Linked DNA regions of Homo sapiens: region 2 is linked to region 1. The links come from fine-mapping of genetic effects on gene expression. Tissue or cell type: whole blood. Region 1 holds a variant in brackets; the other region holds the start of a gene. All regions are shown on one strand. Distances are from middle to middle.

Evidence for each region. PIP is the estimated chance that this variant, and not a neighbour inherited with it, causes the effect.
Region 2: SYPL1 starts here. The variant in region 1 is fine-mapped to the expression of SYPL1 in whole blood (INTERVAL, PIP above 0.99).

What each region holds. Positions count from the first base shown.
Region 1 is chr7:106,065,334-106,076,416 of GRCh38, reverse strand. No RefSeq gene overlaps it. Among named protein-coding and RNA genes, the nearest start is that of SYPL1, 41 kb to the left of the region's middle. RefSeq lists an enhancer at 4,040-4,334. The variant C/T (reference allele first, on the strand shown) is at 4,543.
Region 2 is chr7:106,106,293-106,117,375 of GRCh38, reverse strand. SYPL1 (synaptophysin like 1) reads left to right here and starts at 5,064. Exons shown (of 5, transcript NM_182715.4): 1 at 5,064-5,236. The coding sequence starts at 5,168. RefSeq lists silencers at 4,657-4,716, 4,797-5,286, 5,297-5,546 and an enhancer at 5,002-5,834.

The DNA of each region.
Region 1 (11,083 bases):
TTGGGCCTTGGTTTTACCAGGTGTTCATTACTAAATGTGATATAAAGTAAAATAAGGCCATTCACGGGCCAATGATGATAGTGTGCCATGAATCAAGAATTTTTATTAATTGCATTCTGTGCATTTGAATTCCATTTTGTGAAAAAACAACAAAACTGTACGAATTGCAAAGAAATGTTCCTGAATCCCACTATCATAATGCAGCAAGCAGTTCCTCTTAAAAGTCTCAGTTAATGACCTGGAGCACGCTTTTATGCTTTCCAGTGAAGTGTGAAGTGTTGCCTCTCTTGTCAACAAACTGTCAGTCAGCACTGCACCACTTCCAGCAGTTCTGAGGTCAGGGGAAAGATTTTGAAAACCTTGGCTGGGAACTTTAAGACAGAAACAAAAAAGGTGTCAGCTAAGGTTTCTTAGGGACAGTTGTTCATTTGTTTATTTTAAAAATCTGGTTCCAAAAAAGTCTCATTTAAATTCTAGGAAAAAAACAAATGAGAGTATTGCAAAGCAAATGTTTATTCTAAGTGCCAGGTCACATTTATATTGTAATGTGTTTTATACTTTTCTTGGGTGTAATTTCTTATTAAACTATTCTTTATAACTTTATAAAACCCACAGTTTCCACATAGCAATGTCGAAAAGCATTTTGATTTAGAAATAGCGAAAAAAAAGTAGTTTGGGAGCTAGAATGAATGTGCATTTAGAGTAGCATCCCAGGCCGGGTACGGTGGCTCACGCCTATAATCCCATCACTTCTGGAGGCCAAGGAGTGGGCATTACTTGAGCCTGGGCAACAAAGTAAGACACTGTCTTTACAAAAAAAAAATCAAAAAATTAAGCAGGTAGTCCGGGCGTGGTGGCTAACGCCTGTAATCCTAGCACTTTGGAGGCCGAGGTGGGCGGCTCACCTGAGGTCAGGAGTTCAAGACCAACCTGGCCAACATGGTGAAACCCCATCTCTACTAAAAATATAAAAATTAGCCAGGTGTGGTGGTGGGCACCTGCAATCCCAGCTACTCAGGAGGCTGAGGCCGGAGAATTGCTTGAACCCAGGAGACGGAGGTTGCAGTGAGCCAACGTGGTGCCACTGCACTCCAGCCTGGGCGACAGAGTGAGACTCCGTCTCAAAAAAAAAAAAAAAAAAAAAAATTAGCCAGGTATAGTGGCATGTACCTATAGTCCCAGCTACTCGGGAGACTGAGGCAGGAGGATCACTTGAGTCCAGGAGGTTGATGCTGCAGCAAGCCATGATTGTGCCACTGCACTCCAGCCTGGGTGACAGACTGAGATCCTGTCTCAAAATAAATAAGTAAATCAGTGTTCCCTTAGATGTGAGACAAGCAAATGCACAATGTCCACTGTGTCACGAGCAGGGCTACAGAGATTGGAAAGTGAGGACTTAAGCACTGAAAGAAAACCTGTTTGCTAAGTCTCTGCCGTGCTTCCAAAGCTGAAGTATTCCTGAACTTCAGTTTCCCCATCTGTTGAACTCGGGAACTAAGATATGCCTTCCTTACCTCAGAGTTAGTGTATTGAGAAAGTAGATGTGAGCATGTTAGTGGCCAGGCACATTCTGCCCATTACACAGTAAACCAATCACTGAGATGATGAGTTTGGCAGTGGAGAAAAGATTTTATTCTTGAGGCAGCTAAGTGAGCAGCTAGAGAATGCCTCTCAGGTCTGCCTCCCCGTAGAAGAGGCTTTATGGATATTTATGGGGTAGAGTAGCAAGGCGGTCCGAGGCATGGGGAAAGGTGACTGGAGTAAGGGAAAACAAGGCAATGAGTGACCTGCACAAGTGTAGTCAAGCTTCATGGCTCTTAACAGGATGCACGTTAACAAAATGAGATCATTAGCGTGATCTGAGGGTGGAGTTTTTGGCCCTCCAACATCAAAAGGTCACCCACTGTGAAACGGGAGGTTTCCCTGAACCTCCTTGCAGGACATGCAACAAGGGTGTGGCTCGTCTGTTCAGCCACTGTGTGTGCTCAAACCCTTTACGGGAGAGGGAGCACGCAGGCAGGTGCAGGAATCAGGGTGAGCGCTTTTGGGCACCGGCCCACCAGTGGTGTCTAGGGGTAGGAGCCTGCAACTCCTGAAGCCCCAGTGGATGAGCTACAGTCCTCTTTTAGCTCTGCCATCCGCAGATGGCTTAAATGTTAAACAGCTCAGTGCCGTCTTGGTACCTGGATTCTTGTCCAGTGTCCAGGGAGAATCAGATCACACACAGACTTGAAGGATGGTGAATGTGGGGGTTTTATTGAGTGGTGGAGGTGGCTGTCAGCAGGGAGCCGGAAAGCGGATGGAGTGGGAAAATGACCTTTCCCTGGAGTTTGGCTGTCCAATGGCCTATCTCTCCTCCCTGACTGCCCCAGCCAAACTCCTCTTGATGTTCAGATGCTCCTTCTTTACTCTCCTTCTCTGCCACGCCGTTCTGCAGCTCTTCTGCTCTTCTGTTTGTCTGCTCATCTGCTTGTAGAGCCTGGGGCTTAGGGTTTATATGACTACAGGATAGGGGGCGTTCCAGACCAAAAGGCAACATTTGGGCATGAAAACAGGAATGCTTGTTCTCATTCCAGGCTGCAGGTTTCCAGGCTTTAGGGTGGGGCCTTTGCCAGGGAACCACCCTCTTCTACCCAGTATTTCCCTGTCTCCTGTCCATATCAACTGGACATTCACACAGGTCCAGTTGAAGGGCTGGTGGTCTCAGCTGGTTTGAAGTGGACAAGGACTGACCCCCACTTCCTGAAAAACAACTGTTACCATGGTGAGCAATGCCTTAGAGTTGTTAACTATAAGGAAGCTACTGGCAGATATATATTATTTAGCTATATGGATTTTAAAATCAGCTAGAAGCAAGCGGCTAAAAGCAAGCAAGGCAAGATAAGCTTGGTGGGCCTTATAAGTTTAGTCCTCAGTTTCCATCAACAGCCCATGGTCAAGCAAGAGGCAGCAGGTGGGGTAACAGGAAACCAGTGGGATGCAGACAGTGCGCCCATGCCCATTTTATAGTGCTTGGAGCATGAGTTTACTATTTATAATGACCACGGAGTTTAGAGCTATTTTATTATTGCATTCCTGACAGAAATTATCAAATCATATCTGATGTGCTTGATGTCAAGTCCCTAACCCAGAATGTAAGTCCAAATTTATAACTTCATTATTTGTTTGTTTGTTTGTTTGTTTGTTTTGAGAGGAAGTTTCAGTCTTGTTGCCTAGGCTGGAGTGCAATGGCAAGATCTTAGCTCACTGCAACCTCTGCCTCCTGGATTCAAGCAATTCTCCTGCCTCCGCCTCCTAAGTAGCTGGGATTACAGGCGCAAGCCACCACGCCTGGCTAATTTTTGTATTTTCAGTAGAGACAGGGTTTCACCATGTTAGCCAGGCTGGTCTCAAACTCCTAACATCAGGTGATCCACCCACCTCAGCTTCCCAAAGTGCTGGGATTACAGGCGTGAGCCAATGCACCCGGCTATAACCTCATTATTATGATAAAAAACATACAAACCAGTTTGCAGAAACCTGTTTTATGATGCTCCAATTTATGTGGCAATTTCTAGAAAAAAATTTATGGTGATAAGTGAGAATTGTCAGTCACTGAAACATTAATTACATAGTCAGTGAAGAGCAGGTAAAATATACTTCTGGGCTTCACTTTACATTAGAGATGTTTTTCTGAAACGGTGCCTATGAAACAAATCCTTGTCCCCATTACTTCATATTTATCATTTCAAAGGCACTTTATCTTTATTTCTGGTTGATCACCCTTTGAGGGTGGCATTCCAAAATGTCAGCTCAAAATTTCCCTGCCCTTCGGTTTCTGTGACAAGTAAGTTAACGATCTGTAAATAAATCCTGAAATGTCCTCAGGAATCTGCCACTTGAAGGAATTCTATTAGGATTCTTCCAAAATGCAAACACTTGGCGTGTCATGGGCCTGCCTGAAGTTGTACGCTGGGCTTTCTGGAGGGCAGCAGACCCCTAAGAATAGAGCCCGGGCTTTCCTTTAGTTCCTCTCATTGTTTTTCAGGGACAAAAATCGTTATCTTATATTTTTTTTTTCCAGAGGAGTAGGAGGAAGATCTAAAATAGTTAGGTCTGGCAGCTTAATCTGGGTTGGCTGTCTCTGCCGGCAATCTGTAAAATGTGTTTTTCAAGGATAAGAAGTTTGGGCCCTGGGCCAGAGCTCATGTCTGTCATCAGCGGGAAAATAAATGATCTCTGTAACCTGCTGCTATGCTCTGTTTACCTTTGTGCTTAAACATGAACACCTTGCCTTCCATAGGCCCAGAGCTGCTCAAAGTGGATCCTTTGCTCTTGTCAAACAGAACCTTCATAAATCTGCCATTTGGGTGAGCATGGTGGGGCCAGCTTTTTGTGAGGTGAAACTCCAAACCAGCTTCCATTCTCGGGATTGGTATGTAGTTTTTTCATGTTGCCTAAGAGGCTCAGGAAGGGAACTTGAGGTATTTGTTTTTTCATGCCTGCAAAGGCCATTTCCTAAGAGGTGAGAAGCATATATGCATGCCTGCAAGTACCTGTGAA[C/T]GTGGGCCACTGAGAGTCTCTGGGGCAAGAGCCCTTCAGGGGAATCTGGTATCTATTCATTATGCAAAACTTCATTCTAGCTAGAACAGGGCCTGGGCTACACTTAAAGCTTAAAGGGATGTCTGTTAAACCATGTTTCCTGTTTCCTGTAGAACTTACCACACTAGTACTGAAAGTGTCATAGCTCAGAGTGGAAGGTTAACGCGTAAGAAAGGGACAGTATTGGCAGAAGGCAAGTGGTGTGACCACTTCCTTCTCCACCCTCTTCTCCCATCCCTTGCCTCCCTGGAAAAGCTGGTTTCCTCAGGAGTCACTCCTTCAGCAGCCGCACAAGGCACACGCCTCGGGGAAGCCGGGCACAGGCTGGGGTTGCCTCCCTCCTGCCCCTGCCCTGCCTCCTGCCCCAGCAGACAGTGAATAAGCCACCTGGTTGGCCCAGCTTCCCGCAGTCCCACTTCTCAAGCTAGGGTACATGTATCTAGGAGGACAGGACTGTGTCGCTGGGAGGTAGAGTGAGACGGATGACAGGAGCCACAGAATCAAAACAGCACAATCGACTCATCAGTTCTTTAACTTGTAAGTTCAAGTCAAACATTACTTTTTATTTTGCTTTACTTACTTGTTTTTTGAGACAGGGTCTTCTCTGTCGCCCAGGCTGGAGTGCAGTGGCACAGTCATGGTTCACTACAGCCTCCAACTCCTGGGCTCCAGTGATCCTCCTGCTTTAGCCTCCCAAGTAGCTGGGACCACAAGCATGCAACACCATAGCTAACTTTTTTTTTTTTTTAAGAGACAGGGTCTCACTATGTTGCCCAGGCTGGTCTCAAACTCCTGGGCCCAAGCAATCTTCCCACCTTGGCCGCCCAAAGTGCTGAAACTATAGGTTTGAGCCACTGTGCCTGGCCAAACATTACTTTTTATAATAAGACGAATATTTTTTTCTGAAATAAGGCCCAATGAAGCCCACCTTGTTTGTGTTTAAGAAGCCATGACCAAAAAGAGCACTACCCATTCCTGCCCAGGCTTGTTGCAGTCACCCATTTAATCGCTCATTCAACTTGAGTGTACTTATGGGGCTCTGGCCAACTGCCAGATGAGAAAGACGCAAGCCCCTCTCAGGAACTCACAGTGTAGCGAGGAGGTAATAGGTTAATGCGTGGTTTCCAGGGAGAAGTTGGAGCTCAGATAGGGGTCAGCAGGAGTGGTTAGGGAAGCCCAGAGAAAAGACCCCAACCCAGCTAGGCACAGCTAAAGAGAGACAGTAGGCACTGCACTGGGGGAAGGAGAGAACTCGTCTACCAAGCAGGTACACTGCCCTGGTCAGGGCTTGCCTGCCCTGGCCTCTGTTTCTTCACCTGCCAGATAGGCAGTTAGAGCAGTGACTCTAAGCCCCTGCCAGACTGATATGTCTGTGGCTCCCTTCACCCACATCTCTGCAGAGCTCAGTAGCTCTCAAAAGGTAGAGCCCAGCCTCAGGGCAGCGCGGTGGTGTATGCTGGGGCTGGGATGTGTCAGGGTCATCCTAACTCCAGGATGCAAAGGTGGCCATTGCTGGCCCCAGGGTTTCATAAATTGCTCCGCACGTGGAGAGTCTGGTGTTGGCAGCATTGGTTCTGATATCCTGCCAACTGAGCATGACGCACAGGCCAGGTGGAATTCAGGGCATGTGCTCACGGAGGAACCACCGTGGATTCTGGCTGTGGCAAAGGTGCTGCAGATTTGCGCCTCAGTTGATTTGTTCCAGGATGGCGAGCACCATGGCCAGCCACACCCCAGGGAACATTCCCCCTGCTCCCTCAGCACCCAGCAGCCTCGCAGCCCAGCAGCCCAGCCCCGCAGCCCTCTCTGGCCATTGATTGCTTAGGCAGTACCTGAAAGAAATCTCACCTCATCTGGTCAGCTAGCCTGGGCTTATCTGTAGGGAATTTCACATCCGCTTCCCCCACCAAAAGACACACATCATTTTGTGTAAATGTGAAACTTCAGGGACTCTTGCCTCATAAATGCATGTGTTTTTTTCTTGTATGCAGTGCTATTTTCAAGACCAATATTTAAGTCTTTCTGATGAATTCCTGCCCATCTGTCAAGATTTAGCTTGAATGGCCTCCTCCTACCCATTCTATGGGCTCCCATAGTCCTTTGTGCACTAGAGCTTGAGAGCACAGCCTTGCAATTTATCTGCTGACACGTCCATCTCACCAGCTGGTCCTGAGCAGATTCTCAAGGGCGGGAACCTTACAGTGGCGGGCTTCCATCACCTAATACTAAGGCCTCTGCTGACACCAAAACTCTGTAAATGTTGCAGTCAATTCTAAGTGTCTTTTTCTCAACTGTTCTCATCTTACTTTTTATGGTTTCAATGCCTTCCACAATGGTTTACTCTCTTATTTAGACTTCATCTATCTCACTGAATGGTGGTGTTGGGTCACCTGGGGTCAGAAAACCAGTGCAAAAATGCTGCCACTCTGGCTGTTACTATTACTGGAAGTGAAGAAACTGTCCTTCTTCTCTGACCCAGGAGCCTCATGTCTTCTACCAACATCCGTGAAATTTTGGCATGTGTGATTATTACCTGCACATGAGATAAGATCTCAGTTCTTGATGGTATGGAATGCTGCAGGGAGAGGAAGTGTGCGTGCACAGGCCCAGAGGCCTAGGGGAGCCCAGCCTGCTCTCGGAACTGCCAGGAGAGCAGATGACTGTGGCACACCCTTGCTGTGTGGGGTGGCAAGCAGCCTCTTCCTTCAGGCTTCTGCCCAAATGTGATCTCATTAGAATGGCCTTCCTTAACCATCCCAGCTGACACAGAATCCCACATCACTCCCTGTCTCCTATCTTGCTTTTCTGTCTTTCACATGTATACCACATCATCTCATATATTTGTTTGTTTGTTGTCTGTACTTCCCTACAAAATGGCAAATCCCATCGGCGAAGGAACTTTGTTTCATTCACTGCTGTAATTAATTCTACCACTTAGGACAGTGCCCCGCATAGAGAGATGAGGCTGTCAGGACAGGCAAGCCTGGTTTGCATCATGGGTTACAGCCTGTAAGCCATGCCAGGAGCCTGGGTGAATCCTGGGAGGTTTAGAAATTCTTTTAAGTATTCTATGATTTGCATTTTAGGGCCATGATCCCTTCAGCAGCTGGCAAGTTCATTGAAGGGAGGGCAAGACCACAGGAGTCTGGGAGAGCAGGTGGGAGGTGGGCGCATCATCTAGAAGGAGGATGTTAGTGTGGATTTAAGACACTGGGCTGGAGAGGAGTGGAGGAGTGTTAAAGCTATCAAGTAAGGAGAATTGACAGGGCTTGGTGATTGATTGGATGTAGAATGCAGGGGAGTAGTGGTCACAGATGGTGATTTGGGTGACTGGCAAATGGTTTAGGGGGGTTCAGAGGAAATGGGGGGTATACTTAGAGATAGGATGTTCAACTGGGGCAAAAGTTTGACTTACTATTATCTGCTGAACCGTGAGAAGAGCTGTTATCCTGTGATCATTTCTCGACATCAATCCGATGGCAAGTAGTCTGTTGCTGGTGCCAGGGTCAGAATGTGGGAGTGTCTTAGTCCTGCGGTTCACAGACCCCAAAGGAGAAGCAGGTTACAGGGATTTCTGGTAGTTGTTTCTGATGCCAGCTCCAGGTTAGACAGTCCTCATTCAACCTGACCCTTTAACACTTCTCCAATTTCTGTTTTTCAATATTTTTACGTTTTTAATTTATGTCCCATAAAATGCACAATTTTGAGCGCACATCACTGTGAATGTTTATCTACGCATACACCCATGTAACTACCCAAACCAAGATTCGCAACATTTCCACAGCCCCAGAAAGCTATCTGTGCCCCTTCCAAGTCCAAAGTAAGCATGCTTACCCAAAGGTAACTGCTATCTGACTTCCGTCATCTAGGATTAACATTGCTGATTCTTGAACTCCATTATAAATAGAATTACACAATATGTACTTTTTTATCTGTGTCTTGTTTCTTTCAACATCATGACTGTGAGGTTCACATTTCAAAAATTTGCTGTTTTTATAACTGTGTAATATTCCATCGTATAAATATGCCATAATTTGTTTACCATTCTCCTGTTGATGGGCATCTGGGTTGTTTGGAATAAAGCTGCAATAAACTTTCTTGTCCAAGTCCTTTTTGCAGCTGCTGTCTTTTGGCAATTCCAGGAAGGCCTGTGTTTTGTGTATGTGGATGCGTATTATTAAAGGAAAACCTTCTTGACAAGGCCTTGAACTCGCTGCTGGCCTCTGCCTGGGGTACCTTTGAGGATGAGCAGCTCCAAGGAGCAATGGACAGAAGCTCTAAATCACTAGTGACCAAGGGTAATGTCACATCCCCTCAATTATTTGTTTTTATTAGAGATCAGGAGAATTTGGGGGAAACCTAAAAGTGATTTTGAGCAGTTATTCTCATGCACTTATAAAGACTTTTACCTCTTGCAAAGGACCAGGGCTGGGGAAAGAGACAGAACCAGGATGTAGGTTGGGCCTCATGTACTTGGAGAATGGTATTGAACTCCCTACAGCATGTGGCCCCCAGTTAAGGGAATGGTTTTTCTATATCACAAATGGAAAATATTCTCATTTCTCTGTAATCATAGTCATAGTGTAAAGCATCCTTCGCTAGGGTTTGAATGAAAGAGGTAATCTCCTGATTTCTGCTAAAGAACTTCTCAAATCCTTCATTGCTGATGACTATGACATCCTCATAGGTGCCATTTTCCTCCTAACTTTTTTCCCAAATATTTCTGATCCACCCCAGCAATGCTACTAGTAAATATTCAGAGATTCCTAATCCTAGACTCCTCAGGCATCCTAGGTTTTAGAAGAGAAAGAGAGTTCTCTTTAGTTAAGAACTTGCTGTGGGCCAGGTACTATGTGAGGTAGTTTGCATCCATTTCATTATTTAATCTTTACAGCACAGTGAGATAGGTTTTATTATTCCCCTTTGATGGATGAGGAAACAGAAGTGCAGAGAGGTTCATTAATTTGCCCCAAATCACACAGCAGAGCCAGATTTGACCTGAGATATATTTGGCTTTCTTGCCTATAGCACATTGCTCCTTAAACTAAGTGTGTCTGGCCAGGTGCAGTGGCTCACACCTGTAATCTTAAAACTTTGGGAGGCCGAGGTAGGAGGATTGCTTGAGGCCAGAAGTTCAAGACTTGCCTAGGCAACATAGTGAGACTCTCATTTCTACAAAAACTAAAACTAAAAATAAAATAAGTGTCTCTGACCAGACCTCCTAGCCTGGCTCACACTGTCTCCATGGTACAAAACATTCATATGGTCGAAAAAAAGTATTGTCTCTCAAATGACTGTGAGATTCCACTATCCTTTTATAACTTCACGATATAGAAAATAGTCAAGCTCTTGAGGTTAAAGTAATGTAACTCAGAATCACATGTGGTCCACTGTGAAAAAGCTTAAGGTGACCCAGGGTGCAGCTGTGACTTCCAGAAACGTGGAGACCAAAGGGGAGCTACATAAGGTGTGGAAGGTGCCGAGAAGCACAGTCCCAGCTTGGGGCTGGGGCACTTCCCACCCACCCCGCGGGCTGTGATTAGCCCCCACACCCTGTCCTGGGCCCTGCACTGGCCGCTGCACACCACGCCCCTGCTCTTTGTTCCCCGGTAGCAGAGCCAGTATAATTTCATGCTTCCTAATTTCTGAGGATAGTGAATCAATTCCCCCCACCAGTTTGCCTAGAAGAAGAGCTTATTTAGACAAACGCCTCCAAGGAAACAGTTGTAGAGAGTCACTTAAGAAAACAAGAGGCTGCTAAAGGAATGCTCTGCGTGCAGTGTGGAACAATTCGCAGTCAGCATGGGCGCTCCTCGGCGGGGAGACGCTCCCGGGCAGAGTGAGCACACCTGCCGCACATCCTTCCCAAAAGGAACTCCGCTCATTCCGGACGCTGGACTGCAAATAAAAACAGCCAACGCTAGAGTCCTGGAGTCGGGGAGGGGCTGGGACAAAGGTGAATGAACTTTCCTCCTCTGGCTTCAGATCAGCCTTTAGATTTCTCAGAATGCCTGAGGTCATCTAAGTGGTCTCTAAGTTACTGTCACACCACCCCCATTTTAAGGGGGTTCAGGGCAGCGTGGCTGGTGGGACCCTCTCCTGGGACACTCCTCCAGGCGCCCCCCCCCATCCCCTGGAGGTATTGGACTGAAAACAAACTGCTCGCTTTAGGGGACAAAGGGCACTGGGGGGTTGAGGCTGCAGAGAGGGAACCCCGGGAGGAGAAATGGCCTCGGGAGAGTGGATTCCAGCTTCCATAGAAGGCTGGGAAGGAGCCACCAAGAAGCTTCACCTCCAGTCCAGCCAAACGGTGAGCCGCGGAGCACACTGCTGGCTCCTGGCAGCCCTGAGCAGTTTCTATTACAAAAAGAAAAGGAGGGGAAAGGCTATGAATGCTGGCCTGGTTCCCAGAACAGAGGCTGCAGGGAAAATGGAAACAACTGTTCGCCGGCCCAGTGGGCTTGGCAAGGGCAGGTCAGGGCAGAACCAGAGGGCAGGTCAG
Region 2 (11,083 bases), 41 kb before region 1:
TATGTTGGTCCCTCCAAAGGACATCAGAAGCAGTACTTAGTCTCCCATCATTTAGCATCCTCGCCAATAATAATCCTGTCATAGAGAAAAATGACCTAGGACATTCTGTAGCCAGTGCAATCTTTTGGTTTGCAGATATACCCATGCTTAAGTGCAGTATTCATAATCTCACCATCCTAGTCCAGCAATCTTGGGAAGCTACAATCACGGCCATTGAAGGCCAATGGCAGGCCCTGAACTCGCTGGCAGGGTATGTTTTGCAGAACCAACTCACTTAGGAGGTGCTTCCTGCTGAAGCAGGAGGCACCTGCATGCTGTTAAATAAAACTTGTTGCTTTTACATCAGTAACTCAGGTCAGGTAGAAGAAAGTTTAGAAAAGATAACAGACAACATAAAAATATTAAAGGGCCTTCAAAACAGAGTTCCTCAAGATTCCTTTTCAGCACAACTATTTCAAAGCTTCTCCAGTTAAATTTGGCCATGGGTTGCTCAACTTCTTCTGCCTATAATAAAGCTCATATTAGTTTGTTTATTTGCATACTGTATTGTTAATTCTACATCTGATTTTGTGTTTTCTAGGATACAACAATTTCAAACCAAAACAGTACTACAGCAAAGGTATCAGCTACATAACTTTCCTTTGAATGCAGCAGAACAAAATTTTAGGCTACAAATGCTGTTCTCCCATAGTCTCATAGCAACCCTGACCAATTTAAGTCCCAACTCAGGGATTTAGGTGTACATAACCTCCTGACCGACTAACAATCCTAGGTAGGGCCAACTATACACCCCTGGTCAGCAAGAAGCAGTTGGAAGATGAGACCTTTAACCACATGCCAAAGATTAGTCATTGTTGCTGTCAGGGTGTGAAGAAAGGTAGAGTCCTAATTCAGGAGAAGGAGTCAGGCTGGCAGGACCAGGGGAAAGCAAAACGAGAAAGCAGATAGATAAGCTATAAGTCTGCCTTTCTTCATGGTCCAGGACACATAGCCCTCATGTGTAAATCACTCACAATCTTCCTGTGCCGAGCTACCACCTGACTCTTGGCTGACAGAAAAATGCAAGTTAGCTCACTGCAACCTCGGCATTACCAATACTGCACAAAGTCTTCTTCAAGCGCAGAGCACAAGCACCATCCTATAAAATCCCTAGCAAGCTTTTGACTCTTTGCAGTCAGCTCCTCTTTCGCTGACCTGCCTGTTGCACCCTTGCAATACATTTTCCTACGTTCTCAAATAAATCTGCCTTTCTTTACCTACGACTGTCTTGGTAAATTCTTCTTACTGCCTGTACCACTGGCCCCAGATAGTTTCTGATCACCTGTGACACTCATTACATTAAATGTGGTTTCCTGGATTGGATCCTGGGGGAGTAAAAAAGACATTAGTGGACAACTGATGAAGTTTGAAAAATTCTTTAGTTTAGTCAGTAGTAACACATCAATACTAATTTTTTTTGTTTTGACAAATGTATGATGGTTATAGAAGATGTTAACATTAGGGGAAACTGGGTGAAGTGTATACAGAACTCTTTGTACTTTGCAATTCATAAATCAAAATATGTTTTAAAATGAAAAGTTTAAGAGGCCTCAGATTACTTTGAGATTAATTTACTGAGCCTATTAAATCCATCTATTGTACAATTTAAATAAATTTGGTTATCTTAAAATTTTTCTAAAATGATTATTGAATTCATTAGCGAAAACAAAACACCTATTTGTGTTTATAAGCAAAAGTCAGGTTTTGAATTTGGTATTAAACAATATCTTTTCAGAAAAGGAGATAAATATTGGTTGGGAATGAGTTACAAAGTCTCATCTTGCCAATAAGATGACCAAAACTTTGTATTCCCATTGAGAAAAACAAAAAATATTATAGTTAGCCAATGAGATGTCTAATATAGTTAATATATGGTTGACTAAATATAGTTTCCTTTCTGGCCTTCTGAGCATTCCTAAATCCCAAGTGTCACAGTCTGGCACATGTGTTCAAAGCCACAGAGAGAAAGTAAAACAATGACAAATTATGTAGGTAACTTAGCCATAATTATACCACCACAGATAAAGCTCAATAATACTACCTCAGATAGACAGAACCATTTTATATTACAGGGATTCTTTTCCAAATAGCCCTGGTAGAGTAGACCTGGAACATGTTGTTCCCAGAGCATCTGGCTCTTTCCTCAGATTTGAGGAACAAATCAGAAAATGACCAGTGTTGTAGTCAATGTGATACAGTCATCTGAACATTCTTCCCTGATTTTGAACAGTTGTGCCTTCAATGAGATGCTATTGTTTAAACACTTTTGTTTGAGGAGGATTTAAAAAAAAATCACAATTATCTTGTTGCCCAATCAGATCTCACTGGCTCTGCCAGTCACGGCCAGTTCCTTCTCAGGAAGGTAGGCCCCTGAGCTCAGCTGACTGGCAGAAGCAGTGCTAGGCTGTGACTGAAGGTGAGCAGTGGCGGCTCACTTCTGTTTCCTTCTGCTCAAGAGAGATTCTGCGAATGAGTTCTGATAAGTGACCAGATGTGGTTCTGCTCACCCTCGGTGGTCTCCATCTTTAAAATCGAGTGCCACAGGGCCAAGGAAGGAACCTTCTTAAAGTTCAAGGAGTTACTCTAGCACTGAAGGTTTCCTGAGGAAATGTAACCACCATGCCTTCCACTGGTGGGCTTGAACAAGAAGCAGGAGAGAAAGTGAGGAGAGGCAGACAGAAGCAACAGAAAGTTTAGCGCGGAAGTTGAGAAAGGGCCTGGCCAATTCCAATTTCTAAGGCCTTCAATAAACAAAAAGAAGAAGAGATGCCAATATTGGTTTACTAAGTCATGGTATGTTTTAGATCTTTAATTAATAAAGCTGCATGTGAACATATCTCTAATCTGTCAAGGCATATCTCATTTTGAAATAACATTAAGAGCTGGGCGCGGTGGCTCACGCCTGTAATCCCAGCACTTTGGGAGGCCGAGGTGGCGGATCATGAGGTCAGGAGTTCAAGACCAACCTGGCCAACATGGTGAAACCCCGTCTCTAATAAAGATACAAAAAAATTAGCCGGACGTGGTGGTACGTGCCTGTAATCCCAGCTACTCGGGAGGCTGAGGCAGGAGAATCGCTTGAACCCGGGGGTGCAGAGGTTGCAGTGAGCTGAGATCACGCCATTGCACTCCAGCCTGGGTGACGGGGCAAGACTCTGTCTCAAAAAAAAAAAATAATAATAATAACATTAAGAGTCTAATTTGAATATTCGTGAATATGAAGCTCAAGCTAAATAGTCTTACTATTCACTACTCCGTCCCCAGGTGCCTACCCAGAAGACCGCAACAGAATGAGAGTAAAAGCTTAGAAAAACGGGCTAAAGAGAACAAAAAGAGAAGTACTGAGAGGAAGATACAGAAACAAAGTAGAAAAAAAAGGAGAGAGAGGAAGCTGGAAGACCTGGAGCACCGCTCATCGTGGTCTCAGACGCACCAGGTAGCAGTGTATGGTCACCTTCCACTCACCTAGCCCTAAGGGGTATCTATGATGCTTTGTTGCTTAGTGGGAGAAATCTGCAACCATCCATTAGGAACCCGCTGCAACCCCCCCACCTCCCGGTTCAAGCGATTCTCCTGCCTCAGCCTCCTGAGTAGCTGGGATGACAGGCGCGTGCTACCACGTCAGGCTAATTTTTTTGGTATCTTTATAAGAGACGGGGTTTCACCATGTTAGCCAGGTTGGTCTTGAACTCCTGACCTCACGATCCGCCGGCCTCGGCCTCCCAAAGTGCTGGGATTACAGGCGTGAGCCACCGCGCCCAGTTCTTAATGTTATTTCAAAATGAGATATGCCATTAGGTGCTCATTGAGCACTGACTGTGCTGGGGACTGAGGAACGGGAGCCAAGATAAACATAAAGATTGTCTCTGTCTGCATAGAAAATGAAATGTATTTTTTGCACTCTCTGGACAGCAAACAAGGAGATAGGTCTCGAAAGAGAAAGGGTTCGCTTACTACAAGGACGTTCAATAACAGTTGTCAACCCTGACGGAATAACCTCAGTGGCAAGTAGCCTGCAAATCATATTCGTGCTTGAAATTCAGGTAAGTCCTTGGAAGCTGGTTTTTCATATACACGAATATGACCACATTCCAGCTGTCCAGGAACTTTCCAGGTACTGAAGAAGCCAGGAAGGAGATCACACTACCTTGGGGCTCCCGTAACTGCGTGCCAAGAGGAAAGTATCACCTAAGCCGAATCTTAAAGGGGTCAGCTTCTTGAAGAAAGATACCAACGATGCCTTAAAAAGAGGACTGTCGACCGACAGCGTAGAAGAGGTGAAAGTGTAGGTCACCGAGGGCCTGTCCGGCCACGCCTTTCCTTTTAGGTATAAACTTACTTCATTTTTCAACCATGGCTGCGATGGTAACTTTGAAAATAAACCTAATTTCCATACGAATATTTGGTGATTCACACTTTCGAGGCACCCCACAGCACGGTAGCCAGAAGTCTGTTGTTTTGCAATTTTAATCAAAGGCCCCTAACACATGCCTTGAAACACAACTTCATCTGTGCCAATACATTATAAATTCATAAAAAAGTTGAGATCTGTTAAGGGAAGGAGAGGTCAGCTTCGGTGTAGTGAGCTCAGCTGTGGTGAGCTCGGGGTCAAGTGAGGGTGTCTCTGAGGCCAGCGCCCCCAAGCTGCGCAGGAGCGGGCGTGGGCGCCCCCGGGTCAGGGCTCTTCGCAGTCGCGCGGGTCCGGAAGCGCGGCGCGGGCCCAACGAGCGCACGCGTACACGCGTGCGCAGGGGAAGACCGAGTGCCAGGGGCTGAACCGCAGGGAAGGGGGCGCGGCGCACGCAGTATGGCGCCCAACATCTACTTGGTTCGCCAGCGGATCAGTCGACTCGGCCAGGTGCGGCCTGAGGAGAAGCCTCCCGGTCTCCGCCCCGGCCCGCCCCTCGCCTCCCCAGCCGCCCCACTCCGTTTCCGCCCCAGAGTCTCAGCCAGCAGCTCAACCGCCGCCGCTCCGCCCCGCCCCGCCCCACGGCCGCCCGGGCCCGCCTCCGAGCCCGGCCAGCGCGCCAGCCCCGCCTGCCCTTCCTCGCCACCGGGCTGCTCTGGTCTCGTCGGTCCCCTCCTCCGCCCCGTCGTCCTGACTCTCTCTCCCTCCTTTCCTCAGAGGATGTCCGGCTTCCAGATCAACCTCAACCCGCTCAAGGAGCCACTCGGCTTCATCAAGGTCCTCGAGTGGGTGAGTGCAGCCCGCGCCGGCCAGGCCCGCCTGCCGCTCGGCGCGGCGCCCTAGGCGGGGAGACGGGGACCTGCGAGCCGGGACGCAGCCCTGCCGCGCGGGCTTTGAGGCCGCCGCCCCGGGACTGGGAGTGGACGGCAGGGAGGGCAGGGAGGCCGCGGCCTGGGCCGCGCGGGGCGGAGACGCCGCGGCGGGCGTCGAATCACGAGCTCCTCGGCCGCCTGGCTCCCAGGGGAGCCACCCTCCCACACCGGAGCTCCCCTCTGGGTGTCCCCGTGGAGTGGGAGTTCAAATTTCCCCTTGGCTCCACTGCCTCCCGCAGAGGAAGGGAAAACTTCCTGCTGCGGTCTAACCGAAACCCGGCGGCCGGCGTCGCGCTCTGCGGAGAGGCTCAGCGGTTACGTCCCTGCCGGTGCCCACTCGAGGTCTAGCTCCCTGGGAAGCCGATTTTGTCTTGTAGACGTGATTTGGCGAGCATTCCGTTCTTAATTTGTTTTTAAGATGGGCTCCGAGTTAAAAATAGTAAAAAAATAAACTGTGGGCCAGGGAAACTAAAGAAAGTCCTTTTAACAAAACGCATCGAGTCAGATCGGTTCACTTAATAACACGTTAGGAATGGACATCGAGTTTGTTTGGGGTATTTCCAAACAACATCCTGTTTAGAAAGTCAGCTTTTAGTCCTTTCCTGAGAACACTCACAATCATTAACATCAAAGAACGCTTATTAATTCGACCTTGGCAATGATCAGTTACTTGGAGGAGTTGGTGAATATACCAGGCACTGCGGGCTTCCTTCAAACTTCGCGGCCCACTACATATTTCTGCAGGCAAGTTGTGTTTATAGACAGCAGCATTTACATCCATAGCTTTTTCGCCCTTTTCCTTAGTGATAGAGTGGTGAAGAAGAATAAGAACTTTCAATTTCCTGTTCTAAATAACCTACCGAGGATGTTTTTAAAAGCAGCGTAGAAACTCAGTTTCTCTGATGGGTACCTAATGTGATTTCCTACTTGGACCATTGTAACCGCGCAAGGGGTTAGGCAATTTCACCATTCACTGAACATTTTGTGTGTTTTCTGAAAACTGAAGTAGTGCTGACTTCACACAAATGACTACTTGAAAGACGCATAAATAAATATACTTGATTTTTTTAAACCTAAGTCCAGATTTAAGTATAAAGAAAACCATGATTAAAGCATTTAAAAATTGCAAGAGGAAAATCTCATTAACGAGGCTAATCAAATATGAACGTTAAGAAAGTCTTATATCTAGATTTAGTCTCATTGAGGATTATAATTAAATGTATAACTAATAATTTAGATTTCCACTTAAATGAAGAGGCAGTTGTTTATATCTGTGCTTATATTTTTTGTCAAGTTTTTAAACAACTGTAGACTTAGCTTTTTCCTTAATATTTCAAGCACTAGTGATAAGTTCATTCGTGTTTTGATGTATTTTGAAAAATATCCCTTTTTAAGCATCTTACAGAAATACTTTCAGTTTGAACAGCTTGTTATTACACAGGAGAGCCTTTTATGAAAAGACTACACATTGTTAATGGTGTGGTAAATATTTGACTATTTTATACCAGATCTGTACTAAACACTAGCATACCACATGAATAAAACATGGTCTTTTTCTCATGATCTATTAAGGATGAAGGACATACAAAATACAAAAATGCCATGTAATAAACTGTGATAAAGGTGTATGCAAAGAATAGTAGAAGAAATGAGGGAGAGAGCATTTGCTTGGAGGAACTAGGGAGGACTTCATAGCTGAGAGAACACTTGAAGGATGGGTACTGGTTCACTTGGGGAGTGGCTTTCTAGGCAGAAGGAATCTTATGTTCAGTGGAAGGAAATGTTGAAGCAGCATAACCCTGTATGAGAACTTAAAAGTAATTGGGGGTTAGTTGGAATATATGCTAGGTTGGAGGGTACGGTTTGAGATTGTTCTGAAAAGATTTCAGAGGTCGGCTGCTTCTGGGGTTAATCTTTGGGAATCTGGGCCCTTTCCTTAGGAAAATGCATATGTGCAGGGTATGGAATATTGGAGTGTTTATTCCATTCAAGCCCAGAATCCCTGCCATAGGGGATGGGAACTTAAAGGCTTTAAACAAGTCAATGATACGACTAATTTTAGGCACTCATAATTCCTCAATCAATCGATTTCTCCCTCCAATTCTGACCTTTCCAATCCATCCCTCTAACTGCCGACAAAATGAAAATTTCTAAAAGGATGAATTGGAAAGGCTAGAATTGGAGGAAGGGAAATCTGTTGATTGAGGAATTATGAGGGCCTAAAATTAGTTTCAGTAGGACTGAAGGGGTTTACAAAAGGGGGTTACAAATTAGAATATATATGGAAGGTAACAAAGAGGGAGGACCCTAAGATGACTGCTGTCTTTCTGACTTCGTTGCCATTAGCATATTCAAGGTAATGTCATTAAGAGGAGGAGGAGCAGATTTTATGGGAAGTCAAAGGTTTCAGATGTATTGAGTTTGTGGTCTCTTTAGATCTTTTGGAGGTATCCTATAGGATACAGCTATATATATGGATCTAGAATTTAAAATATGAGTTTGGGCTGCAGATATAGCAGATATCTGCCTGCAAAGGAGAGAAGGAATGGTTAGGAAAATTGAGGGAAATAATGCCTTGGCATCACTATTAGAATTTCAAGAAAAGAGTACCCCAAAACGTAAGGTGCAATAGAATGGTAAAGTAAAATAAGGACTAGTTGATAAAATAAGGACTAGTTAGCAAGAGCAGTTTCAGTAAAATCAAAAAGCCAGATTTTAGTAGGCTGAATGAATGTGTGGTAAGAAAGTGAAGACAGCATAAACCGCTGTTTGACTGTGAAGATGGGAGAAATTTGGTGGTTACAAAAAAAAGCCACTAGTTCAGCTTACAACTCAGTTGCTTAAATGCATTCTCTGGAGACAACCATTGTATTTGGTATGCAACAAAAGTCTTTATTTGCATTTCCCATTTTATCCTACTGACAAGAGAACTCAAGGGTCAAGGTTTAATAAAATTTTTACTGCTTCATCAGACATTCTTAAGTAAAACTGGTGGGGGTTTTTTGTTCTTTTTTGTTTTTGGTTTTTTGTTTTTAACTGCAAGTATGTGGCAGTGAAATAGAGTTTGGTATTCTTCCTGATTCTTATTAAACCCGGCAGTTTTCCCCACCAGTTTATCTGCTTCATCAGTACAAATGTCAGCACAGTGTAAAAGGCAAATAATGTCTTAGTATCGTTAGGAAAATGTTTTACCTTCATGAACTCCTGAAAGAGCCTTGGGAGCTTTCAGGGGTCCACAGACCACGCATTGAGAATTGATGAGGTAAACACCACTGGGGACCAGAAACAGAACAGAAAATACGGCAGGGAGAAAGACTATTCCCAAATTTGGTAATTATTAATAAATCTGAAGAAAGCTCAACCAACTATCTGGATTTACGACTTAAATAGAGCTGAGTACTTAAAAGTGTAGAAATAAAGAGATATATATAGCCTCTCAAGACCTGGACCAATCTACTTGCAGGCTTAAGGTCTGGATTTGTGATAACGTGTATGTTCACTTATGTTGGTGGTTTGGGGGTCCCATCATAAGGTGTGTTTGTGGACCAGGGGACTCAGAAGGCCAAGCAGAAATGACCATGACCATAAAGCCGCTAGACAGGGATAGAAGCAGGAGGGGACAATCAAGTTGAGCCTATATCAAATATCCTAAAACACATGAAGAAAACTAATTTTTACTTAAAAATTCAAATTATGTCAGTGGCAACAAATGCTGTCAGTTTTCCACAGAGTGACAGGCTTACTTCAAGACAGCCAGCCAGATCAACAATCAGGATATTGATTCACTCCAGAAGACATGAAAATAGTAGAGCAATTAGAAAATGATTTCTATTTTTAAAAATATAAATTATATTTTAAATTTTTAAAAATATAGTCTCTGTCTTGTCCAGGCTGGAGTGCAGTAGTGTGGTCTCGGCTCAATGCAACCTCGCCTTCCAGGTTCCAGAGATTCTTCTGCCTTAGTCTCCCGAGTAGCTGGGATTACAGGCGCTCGCCACTACATCCAGCTAAGTTTTGTATTTTTAGTAGAGACGGGGTTTCACCATGCTGGCCAGCCTGGACTCTAACTCCTGACCTCAAGTGATCCACCCGCCTCGGCCTCCCCAAGTGCTGGGATTATAGGCATGAGCCACCGCGCCTGGCTGATAAATGATTTTTAAATAAATATATTTAGGTTCCTCAGAGATTTAAGGTGACATAAATGTGTTTTCAACATACAATGATTAGGAGTTAGCAAAAAACTTCTAGCTGTTTATTTCAGTAGGAACTCTAGAGTTTACTTCTCATAATCCAATTTTTTTTTTTTTTTTTTTTGGAGACGGAGTCTTGCTCTGTCACCCAGGCTGGAGTGCAGTGGCATGATCTCAGCTCACTGCAACCTCCATCTCCCAGGTTCAAGTGATTCTCCTGCCTCACCCTCCCAAGTAGCTGGGACTACAGGCGTGTGCCACCTTGCCCGGCTAATTTTTGTATTTTTAGTAGAGACGGGGTTTCACCTGGTTTCACCAGGCTGGTCTCAAACTCCTGACCTCAGGTAGTCCGTCCGCCCTGGCCTCCCAAAGTGCTGGGATTACAGGCGTGAGCCACTGCAGCCGGCCATAATCCAAATTTTTAAGGATTATGGAATTATCTTGGCAGGCTATTTAGAATTTTCTACTATTGTACATTAGAAGCAAAGGGAGATAGAGTGAAACTGAAGCACTTTGTAACTGACTTTATTTCCCAGTGGGAATAAACTGAAATACCACCATCAAAAACAATACTTTTTTGAAATGAATAACTTTAGTAAACATTTTGGACTTTGACTCATAAAAATCATACCTTGGCTCTAGGCATCTAATCTTTTGATTGTAAAGGCAAACGTGCTATAATATTTCATTTTAAGTGCTGAATGATCATTTGACTTAAAACCAGCATACATTTCTTTTGCATGTAAACACTCATACATAATATACTTTTATATCTATTTTTGAAGATTTCAGTTATCACTTTGATAAACTAAACCTTGGACAGAAAGAAATTTAAATAGATGATTTCAGATTAATGATGAAATTAAATAGCAATGAAGATCCTGCAACTAGAAACGTGTAAACAACACTCATAAACCAGGTGAATACTAGTATTCTCCAGTAGAATCCTCAGAATTAGCATGGTCTAGCAATAGAAGTTAAGGCTCCAAACTCTTTTTAAATTTTATTTATTTATTTTTTGAGACAGGGTCTCACTCTTGTCACCCAGGCTGGAGTGCAGTGGCACGATCACAACTAATTGCAGCCTTGACTTCCCCAGGCTCAAGCTTTTCTCTCACTTCAGTCTACTGGGTAGCTGGGACTGCAGGTACACACCACCACCCCCAGCTACTTCTATAATTTTTTATAGAGACAGAGTCCCACCATGTCACCCAGGCCAGTCTCGAACCCCTGGGCTCAAACGATCACCTGCCTTGGCCTCCCAAAATGCTGAGATGAACCACTGCACCCAGCCTCCAGAGTCTTTTTTTTTTTTGAGACAGAGTCTTACTCTGTCGCCCAGGCTGGAGTGCAGTGGCATGATCTCGGCTCACTGCAACTTCCGCCTCCCAGGTTCAAGCAATTCTCCTGCCTCAGCCTCCCAAGTAGCTGGGATTACAGGTGCCCACCACCACACCCAGCTAATTTTTTTTGATATTTTTAGTAGAGATGGGGTTTCACCATGTTGGCCAGGCTGGTTTCGAACACCTGACCTCAGGTGATCCACCCGGCTCAGCCTCCCAAAGTGCTGGGAT